Regions from separate parts of the Homo sapiens genome. Here region 1 is linked to region 2. Evidence: fine-mapped expression QTL. A gene starts in region 2. The other region holds a variant in brackets. All regions are shown on one strand. Distances are from middle to middle. Region 1 overlaps DNAL4 (dynein axonemal light chain 4). Region 2 holds the start of NPTXR (neuronal pentraxin receptor).

What was found.
Region 1: its variant is fine-mapped to the expression of NPTXR in spleen (GTEx, PIP above 0.99).

Annotation. Positions count from the first base shown.
Region 1 is chr22:38,773,652-38,779,015 of GRCh38, forward strand. DNAL4 (dynein axonemal light chain 4) reads right to left here. Exons shown (of 4, transcript NM_005740.3): 4 at 4,857-5,364. Among named protein-coding and RNA genes, the nearest start is that of DNAL4, 18 kb to the right of the region's middle. The variant C/T (reference allele first, on the strand shown) is at 2,630.
Region 2 is chr22:38,840,895-38,846,258 of GRCh38, forward strand. NPTXR (neuronal pentraxin receptor) reads right to left here and starts at 3,134. Exons shown (of 5, transcript NM_014293.4): 1 at 2,341-3,134. The coding sequence starts at 2,964. RefSeq lists a silencer at 2,653-2,722.

The sequences.
Region 1 (5,364 bases), 67 kb before region 2:
CATCCACCCATCCATCCATCCACCCATTCATCCACCCACCTGTTCTTTCATTCACTCACTTGCTAGTCACAATGCATTTTCGATTCATATCAGCCCGACCCAGTCATTGCTGATGCACCTCCTAGAGAAATCTATTCCATCCATCCACCCATCCACCCATCCATTCATCTATCTGTCCATCCGCCCATCTACCCACCCACGCATCCATCCACTCATCCATTCCTATTTTCATTCACTCACTTGCTAGTCACAATGCATTTTCAATTTATATCAGGCCCTGGGCTAGGCATTGGGGATGCACAGAGAGATAAGACAGCCCCAGCCATCGAGTAAATAAAGCATAGCAGGTATAGACACCATGACAGAAGATGTGGCACCGTGGGGACGCAAAGTGCCTATGTGTCATGGGTTGCAGCGGGGAAGGGGTTCTGGAGGAGCTGGTATCACTCTGAGCTGCTGATGTGCAGTGGAGACCTGAGGCCAGCTCCCATCCTGGCATGTCACATGTTCTCTATGACGCCATCTCCCTACTGTTAGGGGAGGGAGGAGTCGCATGGAAACTTCCAGGCTGCTTCATTGGCCATTTTGAGACTGGAAGGACAAACGCAGTGTGGACCCTGCTGGGTCAACAGCCAAGTCCTCCCACATAATTGCCATTGGGATTGTCTTTCTGGGTTCTGGTCCCAGCCACCTGGGGCCCTTGGTCACTGGACCAGGTGCATGTGTGTGTGTGGCCGCCCTGCCTCTCCTGCTTTGGCTCTGCAGGGGCCCAGTGCCTACAGGGGCTTAGAGATGATAACCTACCTACCTGGCACACCCCAGCCTTCCAGACTCCCAAGCCTCGCACCCAGAGTGGAGGCCCAAGGAAGGGATGGCCCCCCACAGCACCTGACCCAAATCTTTGATCAGCCCTTCCAACTTTAAAGCACACTCACATTCAGGGCCACTGTCTCCTGGGAGCCCTACAGTAACTTTGGGAAGCAGGCATAGCCGGAGCTGCGAGTCCTGTCTTGCAGGTGATGAAACTGAGATCTGAGAAGCGAAGTGGCTTGTTCAAGCTGGCAGGCAACCCTGGAGAGGGTTCAGAACTGTCACAGGCCTGCGGGGAACCCTGGCTCTGCCACTTAGGTTGTGGGTCTTCTCATCTGCATGAGGGGGACACTGAGGGCATCTCCTCACAGAATGGACGTACACATTAGGGAAGATGGGGTTGGTGAAATGCTTGGTGCTGTGCCTAGCACGTCTGAGGAATCTAATAGTTTGGGAATATTATTCAAAATGATTCGAGTCTTCTGCCTTCTAGGCGTGCTCTCCTTCCACCCCCACGGCCTTTCTAAGGATTGGAGATAGCAGCTGGCAGTGGGAGGTGGTTGTTTTAAATATGAGATGAGGAGAACGAAAGGAAATTAGGACAGGGTGGTGGCTTTTGTGGCTGCACTCTGACAACCCCCTCCCAAACCTGGACACAATCAGATGCTGCCTGCTTCTGCGCTTAAGGAGCTGAGCCTCTGCTGCACAGTTCTCACTCCTGCTGTGGGGCGTGGGTGGGGGACACTGGTTTGAGGGGGGCCCCCATAGCCCAAGGGCACACCCCCTTGCCTACCTGTAGGGTCTGTCCTCTGGAGAAGCAGGAAGTAGGTTAAACAAGATGCTGGAGTTTCTCTGCACCTCTTCCAAGGCAACATGAAATATTCACCAGATTTCTCCAAAGGCCCCGCAGAGAGCTTCAAAGCTGGCTGTCCCCGCGGCAGCACGCTCCCTTCCACAGGCGACACAAGGCCTCGTGACCAAGCCCTCACCCTCCACCTTCTCACACTGACTGCCTCGGCACCTCTTGCTCCCCACTCTTGGGAGGCCTGTGGTTCTGGAGTCCCAGCAAGGGGACCTATGGTTCACTCTCTCTGATCTGGCGGGGCACTCACTGCTCTCCCAGGCAGAGGGACAGGCCCTGGGGTTGGGGCCTGTGACTCCCTTTAGACATGTCCAGACAAGGTTTCCGATTTTTGCCCCACACTGACTCTGGCTGGGCCCAGCAGAGCGGACTGGGGTGTTAGTGGGGGGAGGCCCTCCTCCCCATACTGCAGATGGCAGCGAAGAGGCGGGGTTGGTGGCAGGCCTGTGGTCACTGCCTCCACTATAAATGCTGCAACTGCCGTGGAGGGTGCAGGGGAGGCCTGGCGATGGTGAGGGAAGCAGCTAGGAGATGGACGGCCCAAGGCGTGGCCAGGCCGCGGGGAGCCCAGCTGTCTGTGGGGGACGGGGCAGGAGGGAAGTGGACGGAAGGTCTGAGAATGCAGCGTGTGTGGAAGAGCAGGGACTATCCAGGCAGGCAGCCCAGGTTCAAGTCCCGGCTACAGCTGCTCCCTAGCTGGACCCTGGGTCAGACACTCCATCCTCCAAACCTGAGTTTCTCCATTTGTAAATAGCAACAGCAACCCCTAATTTGGAGGTCTGCTGAGAGTTACACATCAGGGTAAGCCCAGTGCCTGCCAAGTGGGGGAAGCCTCCTTCCTCCTGAGCCCCAGCAAACCCTTTCACCTTCAGCCCGTCCTCTCTCCCCACCCCCATATCCTCTCCCATCCACGGCCACTGCCCGGCTTCCCTGAACCCATTGTGAGCTTCCTGGAGC[C/T]CCCACTCTGCACGGGCGGCTGGTCCCTCAAACAATGGTGACTTCCCCCTCCCCACCCCCATCTCACCCCTTCCTGGGAAAATGCCAAGGCCCAGTTCAATGCCACCTCCTCTGTGAAGTCCTCCCCAGCCCCCTAGTGAGAGTCACTCTCTTCTCTGAACTCCAGATTCCCTGAACCCCGTCTTCTCTCTTCTGGCAAATGAACCTGTCTTGCTTTTCTGTTCCTGGGTCTGGCCCTCAGTAGCCTGTATGCTGGGTGGCAAGGACGGTGCCTTCTCCGTGGTCACGGACCTCTCCTTTCAGCCCATCATCAAATGCTTATTGAATGTTACGGGCAGCAAGGGCCCTGGAAGGCCAGGTGTCCACGTCTGGCATGGGTCTTGGGGAGTGGAAGTAAAGCCACCGGGGCCAAGGAAACCCCTGGGAAACACACCTGCCATGGTTCCGTCACCTGACCTGGCCCAACGGTGACCACACCATTGTCTGGGAGCAGGAAGGGGAGACTGTGAATGACCCATTTCTGGGAAGGCAAGTGAGGAGGGTTCTGCTGCAGTGACAGGAGTGACTAGGGTAGAAGGTTTGCTCGCCACCTGTGGTGCCACCGTACGGTGTGACTGTGAGGGCCAGACACTGCACAAGCCTCATCTCACTGAATCTCCACCCACCCCGAGGAGCTGGTGTCAGCACCCCGTCCACAGGTGGCAAGAGGAGGGGCACAGCGATAATGCGGTGCACACCTCGGGGGTGTCACCTGTTCCAGTTGCGGTCCCAGGCCTCCCGTCAACCTCGTGAGGTGGGTGCGGTGTATCCCCATTCTACAGACAGAGCCACTGAAGACAGAGAAGTTAGGAGGAGCAGGGCCAGACCCGAACCAGCTCTGCGGGCCTCAGCACCCACGCTCCTGCCACCCCCACCACCCTGGTTGCCGGCTGAGCCAGCCTCGCTTTTTGGCGCCCACGTGCAGCAGATGAAAGGAGAGAACAGATGCAGAGCGGGCGGTAATCAGCGCAGCTATTCTAGGCCTCGGCGCCTGCTCCCCACCTCCAGCGCCGGCCCCCGCCTCTCCGTTCACTCCCTTCTGCCAATCCCTCCGCAACACCCGAGTGGCACAGGGTTCTGGCCAGGGCAGGTCTGAGGCCAAGAAGCTGCCCCATCCGCCAAGTCCCAGAGGGCCAGGACCAGCTGGAAAGCCACCCAACCAGATGGTCAGCCTTGAGGCAACGACTGCGCCTTCTCGTTCTTGTCTGTCCCACTGCTCTTGGACCGGGTGCGCACACGGCAGCAACCTTCCCCTTGGCTGCATGGGTCTGGTCTGAGCAAACCTTACCTGCTCGCCATGAGGCTGCCCAGCCAATCTGTTGATGGATCTTGTTAGTGCTGGACGCTCAGTCTCACAAGGGTGGGACTGGGACTGGGATAAGGACAGGGCTTCAGCTCCCAGACCCATGTATCCTAGGGACCATCTCAGGAGGGCCCCTGTGTGCATGGGAAGGCGGGCTCTCCCCGCTCTCCCCACGCCCGGGGTGTTCACTTCTGAGGCTCGGATTCAGGGGACAACCCCTGAGGGGGCTTCACAGGCCTGCACGTGGCTCCTGTCCTCAAGTCACTTCTCATCTCCTGCGTTTACCCCAAGTGCCTTGGGGTAATGTCTAGTTTTCTGTCCTGAGAGCAGCCCTCTCCCTTGGTAAGATCCCGTTTTCTGTTCAAGCGTCGGCTGTCAGGCCTTACCCCACTGGAGACCCTGTACTCCCCAGGCTGGGCTTGGAGTCCCTCCTTCCTCCTGCCAGAATGCCCCGCCCTATCTTACAATGTTACTTTTCGTATGAGTGAAATGATGGGGCCCATGTCCTCTGCAGTGGACCGAGAGCTCACTGAGGCCAGACCTATGGCTTGTCTTTGTATCCTCAGCTCCTGGGGCCTGACCCTCAGTGGCTATTGAATAAGCATCTGTTGAACTGAGTGAAATTCTGTGGGCCTGAAAACATCTTTACTGTAGCTTAGTCCAGCTGCCAAGCGTATCTCAGTGTCCGTGTGGCCCCATCCAGCTGCACTTGGCCCCCAACCTCAGTGACCTAATGGTGAGAGGGGCCAGGCCATGTCCACTGGGGCTATGCCTGGGCCAGGGGCTTCCAGCAGCCTCACAGTTTAACCAGAAACATCTCTAGGTGCCTGAGCCTGAGGATACTGATCACACCTTCCCCTAACATCAAGAGACTGTAGAATGAGGTCAGTTTTTGGTCATTTTAATTGTAAAAACCAAGACATTTATATAAATAAGACCGCTGTGTAAAATACGATTCACCCTTCTACTAAAACCCTTTTCCCACACTCGAAAAGAACATAGAAAACCCAGCAGAGAGCAGTACAAATCAGCATGCGGTCCCTGATGCGAAGTCGCGGGCAGGCCAGGGTTCCCTGCGGAAGCAGCCTCGTGGTGAGAGCACTCCTGCCCAGGTGTCCCACCAGAGGCTCGGTGACCCCTCGAGAAACTGCCAGGTAGCAGCTCCCACACACCAGCCCCTGGCTCTCAACTGTACGGGTCGAGGAGGGGACGGGAAAGGCTGCTTGGTCCCCACCAAGGCTGGGGGCTGGGGGGGCTGCTGGCCCAGTGAGATGCAGTGGTCTGTTCAGCCTGGGGTCAAGTTGGGGGAAGGGGTTTCTGAGGGGTCAGCACCTCCCCAGAGGACAAGGAGAGAAGCTGCCTGTGTCCCTTGAAAGAATCATCTCCTTCTTGG
Region 2 (5,364 bases):
CCCAGGGCATGGAGACCTGCAAGAGGGGATGATCAGCAGGGTCAGGTGTCAGAGAGGGTTCCCCCAAGATAAGGACTGAGAAGTCCTCATTTATCATCTTGGGGACATTAGCAAGAGCACCTTCAGTGTATCCTGGGAGGGAAAGGAGACCCTGAAAATCTGGGCACTTTGAGGATACTGAATGAGAAGAGAGGGGAGAGATTGGACAGTGGCTAACGGGTGCATGGGACTCCGCTGAGCCAAGTGGTCTCACCCTGTGTCTGCTGTGCTCCAGCTCCAGCCCCAGCCCCTCCCAGAGGCCCCCAAAAGACTAGCTGTGGCTGTTGCCACGCTCAGAAAGCAGACCTGGTGGCCAAGCAGGGCCCCGCCCTTCTCTGTCTGTGGCTGCTGCACTCAGAAAAGAGGAAAAGGTATACATGGGGAAGCCAGGGCTCCCCCAGCCTGGAAGGCTGACCTGTTGCCAAATTCCAGCTGCCAGGATCCCCCCAACCTCAGCGGGCTAACCGGAAGGGAGGCCACCCTGCCAAATGCTGCAGGTGCTGGGGGCACAGGTCCAAGGCAGGTCCAAGCCTGCCAGCCCCAGACGTGGGAGGAGCCACCTGTGCCATCTGGGCGTGGGGGCAGGGGCTATGGCAGGCACGAGGAAGTTTATTCAATGAAAGTCAAAAATTGTTTTTTACATGACTAAAACCTGTTGCCTAAAACCTGTTTGTTCCTATTTTGAGTTTTGGCTGTATTTTAAAAATGAGTAATATTATAGCTTAATGATAAAAATAGCCATCACTCAAATTGACTGAACATACCTGTGTGCCAGGCACTATTCTTGGCCTTTCATATAAAGTACTTAATCCTCCTAATATCCCAGTGAGGTAGGTGCTATTACTATCCCCATTTTACAGGCGAGAAAACTAAGACTTCCCTTCATTGCATACTTTCACCTTTTTCCTGATTATTTTCCTGCTCTTGGTTCTCTCATCCTAGAAATCCCCCAGAGCTGGAGTCGGGGAAGAGGTGGGTATGGGCCCGGCTTTTCTCCTGCCTCTGCCACCTCTCTTAGGACGTTTCTGAGCTGAGTTTTCTCATCCGTAAGGTGAGGGGTTGGCTGCAATGGCTGACTGGCTGCACTCTGACACCCTGTGGGGAGGGTGCTGACACCAGTACAGACGTCCTGGAGGGCTGTCAGACCACGACATCCTCAGCCTTGTGAGTGGGCATCACCAGTGCTGCTTGCCCAGGATTTAACTTAAAAAGCCCCGGGAGTAAGGGGTCCCTGCATTTACTCCCCGCCTCTCTCCTCCCTCCAACTTGCCTGCTGCACTCCACCTGGGTGGAGGTAGCAGAGGGGGCAGCGCGGGCTTTGGCCTCTTTCTCTCTCTTCCTTCCACAGATCTGATTTTGTTGCTTAACCCCCTTCCTTGTGGTCTGGAAGTCAGGCCATGGCTGGGGTAGTGAATGTGTCCCGGATGTTTGTCCTGCCCAGTCTGTCTGCCTTGCACTTCTGGGAGCCCCAAATTCATTCTTACAGGGAGGAAGGTGGCCATGGGACTCCAGGGGGGAAATGACTGGCCCAGGGTCACATGAGAGCCAAGAGTGGGTTCCCCCATGCTGGACCCCTTGTGTCTGACCCCAAGCCTGAGTCAGGAAAGCCTGGAAAAGTGAGTGGAGGAGGAGGAGCTCGGGGGGCCCTGTTCTCCATTCAGCCCCCACCCAAGAGCTGTGGGCTTCCAGGTGTGTGAGGCTGGGCGCCTGGCACCTGAGCTCCTGCGGTTTGGGTCATAGTCTGAGCCAGAGTGGGAGATTCAGGGTAGGGAGGTGGTGAGGGGCACCCAGGTTTGTCTTATAGGGCACTCTGTTCCCGGCTCTGTGTAATGAGGGGAGGACCCCAAGTCCTTTGGACAGCGCATCCATCTCCTGGCCATAAAGTGTGAGCGTGGAGCTGGGCTGATTTGGGGGTGTCCGGAAGAAGGAAATGAAAGGGACATTTAATGAGGTCCTAGTACGTGCCAAGCATTTTCACACACCTACATTTGATTCAATTTCCACTACAAGTGGACACTGTTATACCTATTTTACAGACACAGAAACTGAGGCTCAGAGAGGTGCCTGGAGACGGAAAAGGGTGGGGAGCGAATCTTTCTGGCGCGCCCTCTGTGCCTCAGTCACCGTGCCAGACGCCTGCCCGCGTTCCCTATCGAAATCCCCCCGCCTCGCCAGCGAGGAAGGCGCGATCGTCCCCGGAACACAGACGGGAGACCGGAGGCTCGGGGACCGCCGGACGACCGCGGCCGGGCGGCCCCTCACACCACCCGGGCGGCTCCCCCGACGGCGCGCGGCGCTCACCTCCAGGCGGTCGATGCGGTCCCGCAGGGCGCGCACGGCGTCCTCCAGCTCCAGAATGAGCGCAGGCGAGTCCCAGGGCCCGTCGGCCATGGTGTCGCGGCGGGGCCCGGCGCCCTGGAGGCCGCGCGGCAGGCCGCTCTCGCAGCGGCCCAGCTTGCCGGTGAGCTCACGGATGGTGTCCTGGTCGGCGCGGATGCGCGCCTCCTGCTGCAGCGCCGTCTGGCGCAGCTGCTCGGCCGTGCTCTGCAGCAGCAGCAGCTCTTCGCGCTCGCCCGGCGCAGCGCCCGCCGCGTCCCCCTGCTGGGCCCCCGACGGGCAGGCAGCAGCCAGCGGCGTGCACAGGAAGCGGCTGAACAGGGGCCCGGGCGGCAGCGGGTGCGCGCTGGCCGCGGGTGCCCCGGGCAGCGCGGGGGGCCCGGCTGAACCGCCCGCGCCGTGCAGCGCGCTCAGGCTCCGCTGCGGGCCCGGGGACGCGGCGGCGCCCGAGGCGACCGAAGCATTGTCGGCGCCGCCGGGCAGCGCCCGCGCCGGGCTGGCCGCCAGGGGCACGCTGGCGATGATGCAGATGACGGCACCGAGGAACGCCAGCATGCCCGCGGCCAGCAGCACGGCCAGGAACTTCAGCGTGAGGCGGGCGGCGGGGGCGCCCGAGGCCCCCGGCAGGCGCGGCGGCGGGGTCGGGGCGCGGAGCCCGGGCGCGCTGGGCCGAGCGGGGCAGGCGCGGGAGCCGGAGCCGGAGCCGGAGCCGGAGCCGGAGCTGGAGCTGTCGCCGCGGCCGCTGCTGCCGCCGCTCTGAGCCCGGGCGGCGGGAGGAGGAGAAGACGGCAGGCGGCGGGGAGGGGGAGCGGGCGCGGCGGCCCCGCCCCACTCGCTTCCCCGGGCCGGCCCTGGCCCCGGCCCAGCCCCGCACCCGTTCAGTGCCGGGCGCCCGGCTGGGGGCGCCGCCGGGGATGCGGCGAGGAGCGAGGGCAGCGCCTGGGACCTTATCTCGCCGCGGTCACAGCGCAGGGGCCGGCGACCCGAGGGCCGCGCGGCGGGGCTCCTGGGTGACCCCCATCCCAGCCCTCCCGTGCTCGGGCCCCCTCCCCAAGCCGGTTATGTTCACATCCACCCGGGAGGGAGCTTTCTTCCGGGTGGGGCTGTGCACTGGGCGCGCCACAAGCTCGGTCGCAATTGAGCCTTGCCGTGGACAGGCTCACAATAGAAATGAGGAAACTGAGACACCTGAGGTCAGGCCTCTGTCCAAGGTCACCGGGTGGCTGCGTTGGAGCCGCCTGCGAGCTTAGGCACGTTTCACCGGACCAGACTGTGGATGGGGCTGGAGTGGGAGCGGTTAGAGGTGGAGAAGAGGCCAGTGTTGGGGGTTGGGGGGAGGCTCGGATTTTGACCTAACTTCTGTTTATACTGTGGCCACCTGCCCGTCACCCCCACCTCCAACCTTCTGAAGGAGCAGAGTTCACTCCCCGCCACCCTCATTACAGAATCTTCCTGTGATCTCAGAGGATGATGGAAATTCTCTCCTCTGAATCCTTGGGGGCTTAGAGCCTCACAGGTCCAGAGAAACCCCCCACCCCCACTGCAGTCTGCCTTCGTTGGCAAGCGGTGCCACGTGCCTGGTGGGCATGTGGACCAGGCCCAGAAGGAACAGCAGGAATGGGAGTGGGCTGTGCTGTGGGGGTGGCAGAGGAGCGTTTTACTTTCTTCTGTCAAAAATGTCTATATATATTTTGTTGAAAATTAACTTTGCAATTAAAAACTTAAAAACAATCCTACTATCCTCCACACTTTATCCCCAGCTCCAATTTTCCATGAGGTCTTTCCTGACCAATACGGATTCCCAGGGCTGGAAGGGCCTTGGGAGGGCTGTGGTTATTCCCAGCTCTGTCTCCCTTCCAAGCCTGCATTTTTGACTTGAAGGGAAAGCGCAAACCAGGATCTCTGGACCACCACGGCTACCACTGTGGTTTCGAGTGTACTTCACATAGCGCTGGTGGTGGGGAGAGACCGGAATGTTTCCCAGGAAGCCACAACCCTGGGGGACGCTCTCCAGCCACGGGGATTTTGTCCAGTGTTCCCAGGCACACGTGCTCCACCTCCCTCTCTCCACACATGTTAGGATGATGTCCACCCTGTTCACCCATCTCTAGGAGCCAGGGATTTTCATCCATACCTGAGTTGTGAAAGAGGAGAGAAGCAAACACAAGCGCTGTATGCCAGGAACCTGAGTGCTGTGTGTGCGTGGATGTGTGCTGGTGCTCACTGAAGTCGTAACCTCAAAACCCAGGGCAGGCAGCTGGGCTTGGAGGAAGCATCTCATGGACAGAGAGATGGGCTGGGCTCTTGGAAGGCAAAGGCCAGCGGTAGGCCCTGCTAAAGTCCTGGGGATGCATGAGACATCGGGACTCCTGGTACATCTACACGTGTGCCGTGAAGACAGAAACACGGAGATAGCATCCCCAGGAGAAACTGTCATAGGAAGTCCAGGGAAGGACAGGAGATGCCAAGAGAGAGGGCTGCTGCCAAGAGCAGCAGAGCCACTGTGACTTGGGCACCAAATGGTGCCACCTTTACCTGAGCTGCCCCCTGAGACTTTGGGGACAGTTTGGATAAATGGGTCCAGAGGCTGGAGTCAAATTGTGTTTAAACTGGTCTGTTGATCTCCTAGAATGACTTTATTTTTTATTTTATTTTATTTTTGAGACAGAGTCTTGCTCTGTCACCCAGGCTGCAGTGCGGTGGCGTGATCTCGGCTCACTGGAACCTCTGCCTTGCGGGTTCAAGCAATTCTCCTGCCTCAGTCTCCCAAGTAGCTGGGACTACAGGTGCACGCCACCACGCCCAGCTAATTTTTGTATTTTTAGTAGAGATGGAGTTTCAATATGTTGGCCAGGCTGGTCTTGAACTCCTGACCTCAGGTGATCCACCTGCCTCGGCCTCCCAAAGTGCTGGGATTACAGGCGTGAGCCATGGCGCCCAGCCTCTCCCTTCTTCCTTGGCCCATCTCTATCCCCAGCATTCAGCATG